Regions from separate parts of the Homo sapiens genome. Here region 1 is linked to region 2. The links come from fine-mapping of genetic effects on gene expression. A gene starts in region 2. The other region holds a variant in brackets. All regions are shown on one strand. Distances are from middle to middle.

Evidence for each region. PIP is the estimated chance that this variant, and not a neighbour inherited with it, causes the effect.
Region 1: its variant is fine-mapped to the expression of WFS1 in whole blood (TOPMed, PIP 0.93).

The regions. Positions count from the first base shown.
Region 1 is chr4:6,287,577-6,295,896 of GRCh38, forward strand. WFS1 (wolframin ER transmembrane glycoprotein) reads left to right here. Exons shown (of 8, transcript NM_006005.3): 4 at 1,411-1,555; 5 at 3,621-3,791; 6 at 4,341-4,421; 7 at 7,465-7,613. Among named protein-coding and RNA genes, the nearest start is that of WFS1, 22 kb to the left of the region's middle. The variant A/AC (reference allele first, on the strand shown) is at 4,836.
Region 2 is chr4:6,266,693-6,274,950 of GRCh38, forward strand. WFS1 (wolframin ER transmembrane glycoprotein) reads left to right here and starts at 3,158. Exons shown (of 8, transcript NM_006005.3): 1 at 3,158-3,322. RefSeq lists a silencer at 3,136-3,245 and an enhancer at 6,166-6,715.

The sequences.
Region 1 (8,320 bases), 21 kb after region 2:
ACCATTCACTTGGGCATCAGCCAAGGGCTGGGCTTTGTGCCAGTGCTGGGGACATGATGTGGCCCTCTCTTCATGGGTGACAGGTTAGTGGAAGAAGCAGACCCAAAAAACCCAAGTAGACAAGACACAGAAATACAGTGATTTTGAATTCTGGTGAGGGGAGAAGCCAGCAGAACGCTGAGACGGGAGGTGGCAGGGGGTCCTGTGTCCTCTGTGGAGGCAAGTTCTCACCACCTCACTCTGTCCCCTTGCACAGGGCTCAAGCAAGTGACCACAGTTATCCTGAGCAGTTTCCTGCCCCCTCTTCTCCCTAAAGAGGAGAAAAGCTTCCACGCGAAACCATAAATTAAGAATTTCTGGCTGGGAGCGGTGGCTCACGCCTGTAATCCCAGCACTTTGGGAGGCTGAGGCGGGTGGATCACCTGAGGTCAGGAGTTCGTGACCAGCCTGGCCAACATGATGAAACCGTGTCTCCACTACAAATAGAAAAATTAGCCAGACATGGTGGTGCATGCCTGTAATCCCAGCTACTTGGGAGGCTGAGACAGGAAAATCACTTGAACCCAGGAAGTGGAGGTTGCAGTGAGCCGAGATCGCACCACCACGCTCCCAACTGAGCAACAGAGCAAGACTCTGTCTCAAAAAAAAAAAAAAAAAAATTTCTTTCCTGACCTCACAGCCATATTGTACTTTAAAGTTCCTCCCACATCCTTTTGCCCAGGCATTTGGAGGCGGGGGGAGCATAGTAAGCCCTTTTATGGGCTCTCTGTGCCCTGGGCCTCACTTTTTCCATCTGTAGAATGAGAAGACTGGACCATTTCAGCAGGGATTCTTTTTGCAAAGGGCCAGATAGTGAATATTCTGGACTCTGCGCAATCTCTGCCGTGTTGCTCAGCTTTGCTGTGGAGCACGTAAAAGCAGCATGGACAACATGTAAATGAATGGTTATGGTTGTATTTCAATAAAACTTTATTTGCAAAAACAGGCAGTGGGCCAGTGCTAACCCTTGGTTAGCTGGCGTCTCTCCAGCCCTGGCTTTCTATGGTCCCCTGACTGTTTTGAGAGGTGTAAAGGACCCAGTCATGGTTCTGATTTCCATGCATTGATGGTGAGCCTTGGCAGGCAGGAGCAACTCAAGGAAGAGAACCTGTACCAGTACCAGTCGGAGCCCGTGTCTCCCTCGCCGTGTGGATGGGGTGGCCACACCTTCCTCACCGTGTTTTGAGGAGCGAGTGGCCGGAGGCTCAGTAGGGCCTAGCCTAGTGGACATGCCTGGTGTGACCCCATTTCTGCCCCTTCCTTCCTGGCCTGGGTGACAAAGGGAAGTGGGTGAAAGGAGGTGGGCTGGCAGGGAGCATGGGGTGGGAGAGGGTCGGAGAATCTGGAGGCTGACTGGTGTCTGGCTTGCAGGTGGGGAAGCACTACCTGCAGTTGGCCGGCGACACGGATGAAGAACTCAACAGCTGCACCGCTGTGGACTGGCTGGTCCTCGCCGCGAAGCAGGGCCGTCGCGAGGCTGTGAAGCTGCTTCGCCGGTGCTTGGCGGACAGAAGAGGTGGGTCTGTGTGAGGCTTAGAACAGCCTCTGGAGGGTTGAGCAGCTTGTAATGCTGCTTGCTAACTGAACAACTAAAATCTTACCAAACCTAACGCTGGTGATGCTGTTGGGAAATTTCAGTTTCTGTTTTGCTGGTGGCCTTCTCATTTTAGACACTGTTTCTGGACTTAACATGGGATATTTAACAGACCAAGCCATTTTCATTCTCTTTGGCTTGTGTTGGTATCTCCAAGTGGTAACTATACATCCTGCTTCCCTGCTGGGTTCTGATCCAAACTGAGACATCGATCCTGGGTTCAGCTGAGAGGCAGTTTCCCTGAGGCAAAGCTGGAGACTGTAATGTGGCCTGCAGTCAGAGTGGCCCATGCCCCTGAGCTGATGTCCGTCGAGTCTGGGCAGACCAGCTGAGGGGCTGTGGGCCCACACAGACCTGGACAAGCATGTTCACTTTGGGAGGAGGCAGGCTGACCCTTCATAGATAATCTCTTTCAAACAGAGAGGCAGGGGAGGAAAGGGACGCAGCTCAGGCCAGGGGTGGTGAGTTAGGACGTTGTCCTGCGCAAGGGAAGTGGCTGTCCCTGGTGCCGTGGGGCAGTGTGCTTCCTGAAGGTTCCACGCCTCAGGGAAAGATGAAAGTGGGTGTCACAAAGGTGTTTTTTCTAATGATACCTTTTTTTTCAGATTGTAAGAGTATTTTATGCTTATCATAGAAAACTTGGACTATGTAGAAAACATAAAGATACAAATTACTCATAACCTTGAAGCCCAGAAGCAACTCCCCATATTTTGGTGTATTTCCTTCTGTGTTTGTTGTTGTTGTTTTGAGATGGAGTCTCACTCTGTCGCCCAGGCTAGAGTGCAGGGGTGCGATCTCAAGTCACTGTAACCTCCACCTCCCTGGTTCAAGCAATTCTCCTGCCTCAGCCTTTTGAGTAGCTGAGATTACAGGCGTGCATTACCACACCTAGCTAATTTTTGTATTTTTAGCAGAGACAGGGTTTCATCAGGTTGGCCAGGCTGGTCACAAACTCCTGACCTCAGGGGATCCACCCTCCTTGGCCTCCCAAAGTGATGAGAGTACAGGCGTGAGCCACCATGCCCAGCTTGTATCATATTTTAAGAGTTACATTTATTATACAGAGTCTTCTCTTTGAAAATTAAACTGATGATTTTGAAAAACTAACAGTGGCATTGTTAGCCAGAATTTCTCACCAACCCAGCCTGCTGATTCCAGAGCAGTTGGAATGACCTGGAGGGGGCTCAGGCGGCCCACACGGCTCATTGTTGGGTGCCAGGGATAGCCCAGAGGCTGCTGGGGCAGAGCGTGCAAGGGAGGAGGCCGGTTGGCCCCGTGTTCCCCCAGCTGCACACACCTTCTGATGTGCAGTTGTGCTTTCTGATTTGAAAAGAAATACATGCTCATGTGGAAAATTTTGGAAATGTTCAAAAGGAGAAAAACATCCAGACCCCCGTGCCAGTCCTCCTGCCCTCTGCTTGGTTGTGCCAGTGTCCCAGGCCGTTGGGGGTAAAGGGAGGAAGGCAGCTGCTGACCAGCGGTAAAACCTGCTCTCCCTCTCCCCGCTGTCCAAGCCTTCCTTAGAAAGGGCTGGGCTGTGTGTGAGACAGAGGAAAGCTCTGTAGACACAGGGGTGGCCCTGCCAGTGCACCCAGGCTGGTGACTGCAGTGAGTCCACCCTGGGTTCAAGACAGCTCTGCCTCTTTCTGACTGTGTGACCTTGAGTGAGCCAGAACACAGGCCTGTGCCTCCGGGTCTGCACCTCTGAGAGAGGGGAGGAACAGGAAGAGGCTGCCTTCTTCCCGCCAGCATGTAGGGGGCACTTGGGGGCGTCTGGTGGGAGACCAGTCTGGCCTCCCAGCTGGAGAGTGGGCGTGGCGCGATGTCCTCTTGAGTCAGATGTCCATGCATCCTTCCCTGGTAACCAAGTCCTGACACCTTCTATGAGTCTCGCTCGAAAGCCTTCCAGGCAGAGTTGGCAGGGTCAGAGTGGCACCGAAAGCCTAGGCAGGGCACACAAGGCCTTTGACCACATCCTATCCCTCAGGCATCACGTCCGAGAACGAACGGGAGGTGAGGCAGCTCTCCTCCGAGACCGACCTGGAGAGGGCCGTGCGCAAGGCAGCCCTGGTCATGTACTGGAAGCTCAACCCCAAGAAGAAGAAGCAGGTGGCCGTGGCGGAGCTGCTGGAGAATGTCGGCCAGGTCAACGAGCACGGTGCGAGGATTCACCCTGGGCACCAGCCTTCCCTGGGCGCCAGCCTTCCCACAGGAGCCAGGACCTTCCCATAGGGGCTGGGACCTTCCCTCAGGGGCTGGGTCTTCCCACAGGAGCCGGGACCTTCCCTGTGAGGACAGGGCCCTTCCTTGTGGGGACCAGGGGACCAGAACCTTCCTGTAGAGACCGTGCCCTAGTGGTGAGGTGTGTGGGTGGCATTTTGACAGCATCTGCCCTGGCTCAAGTGCTCACTCATTGAATAAACCAGAGGGTATTCTGCCCAGTGCTCTGTGACCACGTCTACCAATGGGACGGACTGTGTCCATCACCAAGTGGGAGCACGCTACGTGGTGCTGAGTCCACCCCAGCTACTGGAGGTACAGAGGTGTGGCCCCTGCTCTGCCTGCCCTGGGGGCCCTATGATCCCCAGAACGTAGGATGCCCCTGGAACTGGCGTGCCCTAGGAACAGTGCGCCAGTTTCTGGTGGGCTGCAGGGCACGAGGAGATAGTCAACTTGTCTGACTGTTAATCCACCCTGTCCCCTGCAGATGGAGGGGCGCAGCCAGGCCCCGTGCCCAAGTCCCTGCAGAAGCAGAGGCGCATGCTGGAGCGCCTGGTCAGCAGCGAGTGTGAGTGCAGCCCCTGCCCCGTCTCACCCATGCCTCCCAGCCTGCACCTGCAGGGCGACCTCTCCTTCCTGTGCGACTCCATCCTGGCCTGCCCTATCTCACCCGTGCCTCCCAGCCTGCGCCTGCAGGGCGACCTCTCCTTCCTGTGCGACCCCATCCTGGCCCTGCTAGGATCTCAGGCGGTCCGTTTGGGGCTCAGTGTTCTGGACGCTGGGAGTAGACCCTGCCCACCTGGAGCGCACGCACTGGAGGGAAGGCAGACCCAGGACAGAAACCATGATGTGCCAGTCCCTCTTGGACAAGGAAATACTGGGGGTGGGGACTGGCGGGGGGGTCCTGAGTGGGGAAGGATGAGGAGGGCATTAGGGGAAGGGGCTCCGGGCAGAGGGAACAGCATGAGCAAAGGCCCAGGAG[A/AC]CCCAGCAGGGTGTGGAAGGGGCTCTGCCCCAGCGTAGGCCCTTTGTAGGTAGGCAGGGAACAGAGTGGGCAGAGCCTAGGTTGGGGGATAGAGTCTCTGGGGCACACTGAGCTGGGGGTGCCTCTGGGATGTTTGTGGTCAAAGACTGAGAAGAGACGTCACATCCTCCACGTGCAGCTGGCCAGCCTCACTGTCTTCCATCCACGTGGGGTAGACTCTGCAGTCTGAGGCACTGGGAGCTCCTGTCCTGGAGAAGATAGACAGGCAGGAGGCTTGGGGGCTCAGTATCAATGGGGGGATGGGCCAAGACCCAGGTCTGCCACAGACTCTTCTTGTGACATGGGCAGGTCTCATTTTTCTTTCTGGGTGTCAGTTTCCCCTTCTGAACAGTGAGATGATCAGACAAGGGGACTGAAGGACCTCGCCCATCCTAGAAGCCTCTGTGGCATGTAGGGCAGAGTACAGGTGGGAGCACAGATCCCACCTTCCCACTGGGCCCGTGAGGAAACCGTCCATAGGGTGTGGTCAGAGCCCTCGCCTCTGCGTGGGCGGACATGGGTGCTTGCGCTGCTGTTTTCCTGCTCCATTTGGGGGAGACAAAGAAACACCTCACATGGAAGTGGGAAGAAATCTGTGACTCTAGGAAGCCCGAGGACCAGAGAGGCTGTGACAGTGTCCTGCCACCGAGGTGGCATGGTGCCTGCTGTCCTGAAGTGAGGTGCCTCTGGGCAGGAGCAGCCCAGCCTGGGTCTCCATCCTGGGGGGCACTGCAGGCAGAGTCTGGACCCCAACCTCACTTCCCAGTCCCACAGGGGTTTGTGATGAGCCGGGCACACCTGCTGCTGGGCCCTGTCGCTGTTGCTGGGGGCGAGTTAGGAGTCAGCGCTGCCAGCCTGTGGTCCCCTCCGCCAGGCCCTCAGGGACAGGGCCCCAGCACCCCCATTGTTTCCCCTCTATCAGAACGTTCCCATCAGGCATCATCTGTTTCTCTGCCAGCTTTTCCAACAGAACTCCCAGAAAGGGGCGTCTGTCATCCCCTTCTCTCGTCCTCCGTCCTTTGCTCTCAGGCCTCTGCCATGTTATTCCACCAAAGCGGCTCGTCTAGGCCATCAGTGACCCCCCTTGCTCAGTCACTTCTTGTCCTTGTCTGACTTGATCTGTCAGCAGCGTGGGCAGAGATGACTGCTCTTCTCCTTAGAGCCCTCTCCCCCACCAGGCCCGGGGCCCTTGCTGCCACACTGGCTGCTCCTTCTTGGGGTCCCTAGACTGATGTCCTGTCTCTCAGGACAGGACATCCTGCCCAAGGTATTCATCCCTATGAGGACAGGGGCCTTCCTTGTGGGGACCAGGGTCTTCCCGTAGGGACTGTGCTCTGGTAGGGAGATGTGTGGGTGGCATTGGTGACCACTCTCGTGTGTCAGACGCCGTCCTGAACCCGCAAGCCCCCAGCCCGCCCAGGCTGCATCCAGCCCGTGCTCCTTCCACATCTCCTGTACCTGGCTGTCCCATGGTCACCTCACAGCTCAGTCTACAGTGAGCTACTGAGGCCTGTGCTACCTGCCACTTGTGTGGGCCCCCCCAAGGCTGCCTCATCTCTTTGCTGCAGCTACACCTGGGTGCTGCCCCGACTCCTCTCCTCTTGCACACACAGCTGATCCATTAGGAGGTCTGTCAGCGCCCACTATCACGGCTGCCATCTTGGATGCAGCCTGCCTCCTCCCTAGGGTTTCTGCAGCACCCTGGCTTGTCTCCCTCTGCCCTGCCCCAGCATGGTCCTTTCTTTCCCATCCTTCCCCTGGAGGCCCTCCTGGTCACCATCTCACCACGGCAACTGGGGTCCTTCAGGGGCCTCATTCCCTCCTAGGGGATCATGTTGGATAGAGGGGTCAGTGGGCACGTAGCTCTCGCGGATCACGTTGGATGGAGGGATCAGTGGGCACGTAGCAGGCTCTTGGTGGAAGATGTTGGATGGAGGGGTAAGTCGGCCCATGGCAGGACGCATGTTGAATGGACGGGTTAGCAGGCATGTAGTAGGCCCATGGCAGACACTTGTTGGATGGAGGTGTCAGCAGGCACATAGTAGGTGTGTGGCAGATCATGTTGGATGGAGCGGTTTAGCAGGTGCACAGTAGGCCCTGGGTGGATCACGTTGAATGGAGGGGTTGGGGGCGCAGATCATGTTCGATGGAGCGGTTGGCAGGGTACTGCCCTACAGGGCGGCTTGTCACCCGTGCTGTGAGAAGCCCCACGCTGGCTGAAGAGGAGGGTGTCAGCATGCACTGGAGGTGCATGTTGTAAGGCTTGGCAGGTGAACTGGGTGAAAGGTGTGGGTGAGTGGCCCCAGGCATAAGGAGCTAGGCAGAGAGGGACACTTGGGGTGGGGGACAGCACACCCAGGGGCCGGGGGCCAGGAGTGGAGGCTGGCACTTGGCAAACCTGCCCCCTTCCTCCTCACCCAGCCTGGTCCTCAACCCTCAGGCCGCCCAGGGAAGGGTTTCCTCCACCTGAACCCACTCAGCTCCTTTCTTAGCTTGGCCCCACGCCACCGTCCCCAGCCCATTGCTCTGTGTGAGGGTGGCAGTGGGGCTGCAGTGTGGGGCGCCCATGCTGTTTTCTCTCATGCTTCAGCCAAGAACTACATCGCGCTGGATGACTTTGTGGAGATCACTAAGAAGTACGCCAAGGGCGTCATCCCCAGCAGCCTGTTCCTGCAGGACGACGAAGATGATGACGAGCTGGCGGGGAAGAGCCCTGAGGACCTGCCACTGCGTCTGAAGGTGAGTGACCAAGACCCCGGTCAGGCCGGAGCCTGCCTCCCAAGGACTCGCGCACCTCAGGCAGGGCACCTTCCAGGAAGCTGCAGGTGGGGAGGTTCGCGCCTAACAAAGAGTGTCTTACAGCCGTGCCGCTGGTACCTTTGGGTCATCATCTATCGTCATAAGGATGTGTCCTCGGGAGAGAGGCCTTTCTTTTCTGCGCCGTCAGGCTCAGAAACCAGGGGCGGTGTTGGGCAGGAGTGCTAGGATGGCAAGCAAGGGGCCCCTGGGTCTTTCTGTGCAGTGTAGGGGGCAGTGGGGCGGGCTGGACGCAGACTTTCATCTAGACTTCATCACTTAGCAGATTTCTCCATGTATGGTCCAGAGTGGAGGCCAGTGCCTTGAAGATGCCTTCCCCGAAAACAAAGTGCCGTGTCCGTCAGGCCAGGGAGGACGTGCAGAGGCGCCTACTGCCCCTGGATCTGCAAGGGCTCAGGGAGCGAGGCCAGTGTGGGAGCGTGGTGGGTGACACTTGTGCAGGGTGCCATTGGGCACACCTGGAGGACATGAGCAGCTTTGGCGGCAGGAGGAAAGCGGGGAGCGGGGAGCGGGAAGCCCAGCAGTGCGGGCCCTACTCCTGGCCTGACAGCTTGTTTTCTTGGCCATGTGGCCCTATGGCCTCTCACAGAGTTGCTCACAGTTCAGCTCGCATGGTTGAATTAGATGTG
Region 2 (8,258 bases):
ACTCAGCAGCAACATGCAGAGCTCAGCTCTTGGGGGAATGAGGACAGGTGTCCTAGAAAAGATAGCATTGAACAGCTGGCTCTTTCTCCCACCAGAGTTGTGTTTTAATAAGTTCTAGTATTTCTAGCAGTTACTGCTTTAAGTGTGTGGCTACTAGATTTTCTGGCTCATTCAGATTCATGACAATGAAATCTTTGTGGATTGTGCCTGGCACCCTTACATAATACCACTCTTCCCGTGAATGCTTTCCATCATGCGTTCTTCCTTATCAATAGTAATTTGCCATTTTTCAAATGTCTGCTGTGATCTTCTACTTCTCAATATTTTTGGTGTGTTTCTTGTAAATAGCGCTTAACTGGACTTTAGTTTTTGCCCCAATCTTACAGACTTTGGATGGGAAATTCAGCCCATTCACCGTGTTACGAAGGCGGGTAGCCATGGCTTTATTTATTTTATCTCATCTTATGTTTACTATTATTAAGCTTATTGTTCTTGCTATTATTTACTTTCCCCCTTAATTTTGCTTCCTTACTCTCCCTCCACCCCTCCCCCAACTTCTACCTAGTAATTCAGGAGTTCTACTCTGCTTCTTTCCCGTGAGTTGCTACTTTCCAATTCCTGAGAGTCATAATTCAACCAATCTTTCCCTGATAATGTATTAAAAGTAAATGGTAATGAAGCCCCCTCCCCACCACCAATAAGGCTTTCCTTCCCCAGCTGAGAGTCATAATTAAACCAATCTTTCCCTGCTAATGTATTAAAAGTAAATGGTAATGAAGCACCCCTCCCAACCACCAATAAGGCTTTCCTTCCCCACTCACCAAATCAGATCCTTTTACTTCCTCCTTCTCCCCTCAACCAAATGTGATCTTAAAATATTCTGACTTCTCTGTGATAAGATTCTATTTTTTTTTTTAGTTCCAGGCTAATACAACTTTCTCTTGAAGCATGTAGCTTATGTTTTAAGAATCCTTATGTGGCACTGCTAGTACAAAATCACAGGCACATGTGGATTATCCATACTGTATATTTTGCAAGGGTCATTGCTTAACACCACTTCCTGTTCTGAGCGTTTGCTCTATCTTGAAATCTCTACTGTGATTGAACTGTCTCGGTGACGGGGGAACTCTGAATATCTTCCTCTGAAAGGGGACATCACTGAGGTCCTTTCTCTGTCTTGCCACAGTGGATATTTTCTCTCTTTTGTCCACATAGATGAATCCTGTAGTAGCCATGGTAAGGATCCTTGATCCTATCATCAGAGTCCCTGGACATTGCTCCAAAGTCCCCTAGGAACCACTTCAACTTTTCTCCCCTTAGATGTGACCTGTTCTTTCTGGAACTCTGCAAGACCGTCTCTTTATCCTTGGCATCTGGGATTTCCAGGGACACGTTCTCCTGGCACTTTGCTCACCTCTGTTTCCCCTCCAGCTCTTCCTGGAGTACCTGTCCTTTGTGCAATACACCTCCTGGAACTGTCTTTCCAGTCTCTGCTTTTTGTCCTGATGATTTTCATGTGCTTTTCCTCTACATCATGAAGCATTTACTCCACATTATCTTCCAGTTTGCTCATTTGTCCTCACCTCCACTCTTCTCTTTCTGAATTTGCCTGTTGCTTTTTCAGTCTCTTAGCTCCGTGGAGTATGTTCAGTGTTGCTGTGTTCTGATAGAGGCTCCTTAAGCCATCTTGTAGATTTTTTGTTGCACTTCCTCTCTTCCCTTAGACCTCCACAGGAGGAACTTTTCAATCTGTCCTCTTCTCTCTGCTTAATGAGCCCCTGCAAAGGGTTTGGGAAGTGCTTCAGCCTCTCTGTGATTGTGTGTTCACATTAATATTTATTATTTTCTTAAATGTGCATAAATCTCACAATGTGAACAGTGATCATCTTTGAGTGATTTTTTTTCTCCTTTCTACTTTTAGTAATTCTCCAAATTTTCTACAGTTAGTGTGTGATAAGGTGGAAAGACATCTTCAAGACTTTGGGCAAATAACTATGTCTGAGCCTCAATTTTCACATCAATAAAAAATGGGCTCAGTGCCACCTCCCTCCTTGGGTCACTAGGGGGGCCCTTGAAAGCTGTGAAAGCCCCTAAGCCAACCTGGACAGAGCAGGCGAGGCTGACGGCAGGTGTTCTTCCTTCCTCTGTGAGCCTCACAGGGTCACACGTGAACATTGGGGATCGGGGGTGGGCAGTGGGGGCAGCTGGAGAATCAAATGAGGTGACTGACATGAACTACGCCGCTTTGACAAAAGTCCTCCGAAGTAGTGTGTTCAGAACTCATCTCCAAAGCCATCTGGAATATTTGCTCCCAACATGTTGGTAAGCATTATCTCTGACAGTCACTCCGAGCCCCAGTTTCTGCTGTGATAACTAGGACAGGTAGCTCAGGTTGGTTGTGGGGACCAGAGACAGAGCAGGCAGGGTCTCACGTTCCCCAGGGCCTCTCAAGGATAGACCCTCGCCCTCATCTCCAAACCACGCCTCCCAGACAGGAACCAAACTCCCAGAGTCTCCAAACTGCCTGAGCCTTGCCCACTCCCTGGGCTAACACACACTTTAAAGGAATCCCACAGTCACCGTGTGAAAAGCTTGCTACACTGCATTTGATTCTGGGCACTGAAAGCAGTACTTGGCTGCAGACACTCGTTTCAAACAGGCCCCATTTTTCCATCTCTGCTGCTGTTATTAGGGGAGCCCTTAGACTCTCTTGCAGCGCCGGAATAGGCGCTCAAGACGTGTGTTAATATTGCAACAGCAAATATAATGAATCTGCAGTTGGGGACGCTGAGGCCGGAGTGGTGGATGAAAGGTGGCCGGAGCCTTTTCCACGGGTCCAAACCACCTGTTACAGGAGAAGGCGAGCGGCCTCGCTAAGCAACTGGACGTTCCGCGGGCGGGGCGGGGGCGGGGCCGGGGCCCGAGTCCGCTCGGAAACTTTCGCTGTGGGCGAGCCGGACCCGCCTTCTGGCCCCTCGGGCCCAACCACGCAGGGGGAGTGCCGGGCCGCAGCTAGGCGAGGCGCACCGTGATTGGCGGAGATGTGGAGTGATTGGCGGCTACACCGGCCACTCAGCAGGCCGAGCTGGCGCCGCATCCGGGGGGCCGCGTCTGGAGTGGAGGGAGGCCGAAGGCCCCGCCCCTGCCCCGCCCCCTCGTGCAGAAGGCCGCGCTAGCCGGCTCTTCAGCAGCGAGTGCAGATTGCTCCCCCGCGGCCGCAGATCTCCCGTTTGCGCCGCGTTCAGCTGCTCCCGAACAACTTTTCTGCCGGCCCAGAGGCCCCAGGGCGTCGCAGCGCCGCGTGCGGCCCACTCACGGGCCGGTGAGTACTTCGGCGCTGGGGCAGTGGCGCGGTGGCTGTGGGCAGCGCGCAGGAGGCGGGCAAGAGCCCTGAGGCACTGTCCTCTTCGGGCCTCAGTTTCCCCTTCCGAGCTGATGGGTGGCTGGCCCCAAAGTCCCGACAAGGTCCCCGAAGTTGGAGGGCCGGGGGTCCCGCCCGCTCTGCAACGCGCAAGGCGACCCCTGTTCCGGGCCCGAACGGGTCACCCGGGGGGCGCGCCCCGGTCCCCCGCGCGCTGTCGCCTGGAGCCCCGCCGCGGGCGGGACAGCAGGCCCGAGAGGCGGAGCGGCCGGCGGGCAGGCCCCCTCCCCGCGCCCCGCGCCATCCCCCCCGAGTTGCCCCGTCATGCCCCTCCCCCGCGGTCCCGGGACCCACGGCCGCCCTCGGTGCCCGCCCGGCCGTTGGAACGCGCCTGGGCCCCCGGGAGGTGTTGTGGGGGGGAAGGGGGGTTCAGTCCCCCAGGGGGACCCGGCCCGCCCGAGGGGCAGCTTAGGGGTCATTCTGAATCCCCACAGCCCACTTAGGAGCGCTGTGGCAGTTCCTCTCTCTCTCGGGGCCCCTCAGTAGAGAGTTGAGGGGTTTCAGTGGCAGCACCTGGACCCTGCCTCGTATGAACTCCACCCTCTGGATCATTAGCTTTTTGTTTGATCAACGAAAACTTTCTGGAGAATCCTACCCAGCCCTTTTGGATGTGATGGCGCCCTGGCCTCTCACCCACTTAGCAGATGATGTTATGAATTCCAAGGAAGTCGCATTTGTGCAACCCCCCACCACCCAGATTTAACCCTCTCAGTAGCCTTAGGCGGAGAAGTTATAGTCCCCGTTTGACACCCCAGGAAGCTGAGGCTCAGCAGGGTTTGGTGCCAGCCCAGGACCACGAAGCTGATGGGGCAGAGCCTGGTGTGAGGCCTCTGCCCTATCTCTCCAGAAGCAGCCCCGTCTCTCCTCACCTTGGACAGTGACCCCTGGCATTTGGCCCAGGGCTTTGCAGTTTGTAAAGGGCTTTCTCTTATGCCAGCATCCATCACTCAAGGAGCTGTGCCCTGGGTACCCCATGTGCTGGCTGCCTGTTCTCTGCAGCAGGAGAGGGAGCCCACGGGAAGCCCAGAGGCCACCTTTGTCACTGTCGCCACCTGTTTACTTCTGTGTCCAAGGGTCTGTGATTCCCATGGGGTCTCCGTTGTATCCAACCAGGGATTTGGAGGGAGGCTTCTCCACATTTCAGCCTCTTTTCCCTACCTGCTGGTTTGTCCTCCCTTCGCAGACACAGGAAAAGTTGGCTGGGAGACCCCATCTCACCTTCTTTCCCAGGATGGAAGAGCATGGAGGGCGTCTCTGACTTAGGCCTCCCCTGCCCATCCCGGACCAGTGCTGGACAGGCTTCTGGGGCTGGTCACAGAGGGGACCTCAGCTCAGTCTCAACCCCCAGAGATGTCTGCACTGCCAGACAGACCCGAAACACCCATCCTTGACGGTGGCAATAAGAATCATAATAGGTCGGGAGCTTTATGCCTACACGGCTCCCCTCCCCTCCCACTTCCCTACTTCCGGAAGTGGTACCACCACAGCCAGCCAGCCCCAGCCACAAACCAGACCACCCCCTGTGCCCTTCATTCCTCACTCCCAGTTGGGTCTCTCCTGGCTCCTGAGCCTCACTCGGATGCCTGCCCTGGTTCAGGACCCTCGCCTCTCCCTGGACGACCCCCAGGCTCCTCCCTGGTCCCGATCCGGGCCTGGCTGCACGCAGCCCTGCTGGTTCTTCAGCTGCCACTTCCCTCTGGGCTATCGGGTCAGGTCCGCCTCCCGAGCCAGGAGCCGGCATTCTTTCGGGCCCTCAGGGACCCGCCTCGCTGCTCACTCAGCCTCTCCCTCCTGTGTCCTCTCTCCAGCAGTCACCTCCCAGCCACCTGCGTGTTCCTGGCCACAAGCCTGGCTCACTGTCCCTCTGCTGCCTCCTCTTCTGGGCACAACCCCTGCTGGAATGCCCAGCCACCTCCCAGCTTGCCTGGCTCCTGCCTGCTTGTCCAGAAGGCTCAGTCAAGTCCTCCTGCAGGATTTCTGGCCTGCCTCTTCCCACAGTGGAGTGAGGGCCCCCTTCTGTGCCGTCTTTGTGGGTGTCTGTTTAGGTGTTAACCCTTCCCATCTAGATGAAGCTGCTCCAATGCTGGCCCTGGACAAGACTTCTCTAGGGCAGGGGGGCCCAGCACAGTGCTTGGCACAAGATGGACCTACCCTCAGTCCACACCTGCTGCCCATCCAGGCCAGGCCTGGAGCAGGTGCCAGGTGTGTGGTGGGGGCTTGGCCACTATGGCCGTCATGAATGCTGCTTGGGGCAGTCCCAATTCAAACCCCTCTGTTCCTGTGAATGTGCCACATTGGATAGAGCTGGAATGTTCCTTGGTTTGTCCCTTAATACTCTGAGCAAAAATAGGTACCTGGGATCCATCAAGGGCTTTGTGCCCTTGTCTTGAGGAGCAGCCCTGTGCCAGGGGGCTGGGTCAGGCCAGGCCAGAGCAGACATCCCAGGGCCAGGACCTCCTGGGCCTGCTCCCTTAGAGCTTGCTCACAGATGGGTTTTAAAATAACATTTGCTTTAATTTCAAAAACATCACACATTCATTATAGAAAACTAGGGAAATATGTTTAAAAGAAGAATAAAATGAAACCGCGCATAAGCTTTATCCCCAGAGACAACAAGTATCTTTTTTAGGGGGCGTTTTCTTCCGTTTTTTGGCAGATAAATTTTGTTTTCATCCTAAACAGACTCCGGCTAATATCTTCTGCTGCTTTAAATCCTGCCTTAACAGTGTTAGGCCCACCTTTTCCTTGTCTCAAAACGTTCATGTACGAGGTCACGTTTACCAGCTGTACAGCGTTGCACCATATGGAGGGGTGTAGGCTTTATAGCCAGCCCCTTTCTGGACAGTGCTGAAAGTGCCATATGATGGACATTGTGTGTGAGCCCCGAGGGCATCTCCAGTGACTCCCCTGGACTGGCATCCTGGAGGCAGAGGCACTGATCAGAGAGAGTGAACATCATCTTGGCTTCCCACAGGGGCTGTTTCTGAGGCACTGGCTTGGGAGATGGGGTTGCCCCCCCAGAGAGAACAGAATGGGGGTGGCCTGGGTGAGGGCCAGAGCCCTTAGGGCAGAAGGCCACGTGTGGTCATTCTGCTGCGGGTCTGAGTGGATGCATGGTGCCTGCAGCCCTCTCCAGGTGGCGGCCTCTCAGCTGAACTCCTTGGTGCCGGTGTTTGTGTTTGGACGGGATAAAAATATGCCTCATTGCTCATGAGGAAAGAATGCTAGCAACTTTGGTTTTGTGGATCTTACACAGTGACGGCTTCTAAGCCATTGCTGTGGTCACCAGTAGGGAGTTGGGGCTGAGTGCCCCACCGTGCAGGTGGGGATCTGAGGGTGCAGAGTGGATGCAGCTGGAGATGCCTGGATGCTGGGGTCTGGGGGAGGGACTTGCTAAGGTCCCACAGCATTATTGCCTGGATGGTGCTCCTGCCCTAGGCCAGGCTGCCTCAGGCTTCTGCCCACATGCATTAAGTGCTTAACGTATTCCTGGCAAGGCAGCCGGTCTTCCGAGTGGATAAGCTGCAGCCCTGCCCTCAGGGCTCACAGTGGCTGTAACATGCAGGAAGACTCAGAGAGGGAAGGACCAGACAGCAGGTCCTTCCACCGGGAGATCTTTTCTGATCTTCATTGTCCCTGTGACCAACCATGACCAGGAATTGTTGTGCTTGTTTTGAAATAACAAGCCCTTTGATCCAAACCAGACTTGGCCAACCCCCAGGGAACCTGAAAATTAATCCTCCTGTATTCATCCATTCTTACTAACCAGAGATTTTACTTTAAACAGTTTTTTTTTAACTGCAGTGTGACATACATGGTACATAGGCCAGCTAGAATCTGTTTTCCTGAAATTCCTTTTATGAAGTGTTTTCCAACTGAACATGCCTTTGTTTAGCACCTGGGAGTAATGGCTTAGGGTTTTTCTTTTCCTTTTTCTTTTTTCTTTTTTTTGAGACGGAGTCTCGCTTTGTCACCCAGGCTGGAGTGCAGTGGCGCGATCTCGGCTCACTGCAAGCTCCATCTCCTGGGTTCACACCATTCTCCTGCCTCAGCCTCCCCAGTAGTTGGGACTATCGGCGCCCGCCACCACGCCTGGCTAATTTTTTTGTATTTTTAATAGAGACGGGGTTTCACTGTGTTAGCCAGGATGGTCTTGATCTCCTGACCTTGTGATCTGCCCGCCTCGGCCTCCCAAAGTGCTGGGATTACAGGCGTGAGCCACCGCGCCTGGCCGGCTTAGTTTTTTTTTAATGCCCAATAGTTTGCTTTCTCTTCTGCCACACACGTAATCCCCATAGCACCCCTATGTGGGAGGTGCTATCCCCATTTTACATATGGGGAAACAGACACAGTGAGGTCATGTGGCCACTAGTAAGGGTAACCGACGCCCCACACCATGTTGCTTCCAGCTGTAACCTCTAGCAGAGGGAGGGCTCTGATGGAGAGGTGATCGCCTGAGTGCTGTGTGTTTACCTGAGTAGGTGAGGAAGACAGGGACTCGGGACAGACATAGCTTGGAAGCTCCCACAAAGGAGGTATCGCTGGAGCTCTTGACTTGAAGGGTGCTTAGGGTCTAGGCTGGGGGAGGGGGGTAAGAAGGCATTCCGGGAAGAGGGCCCTGCAGAAACAGAAGTGTGGAGGTCAGCATTTGTATGCTGATGTTGAAGGGTAGCCAGTGTTTTGCAGTGAATGGGCCCCGGGAGAGAGGGTGCAGTGGCATGGCGGTCTGATTTCAAAGTCGTCTTTTTCAGAAATGAGCTTGCAGAAGCATTAGAATTGGGCAGGTCTGGATTTGAATTTCAGGTCTGGTACCTGGAGCTGTTTGACCTTGAGCAGG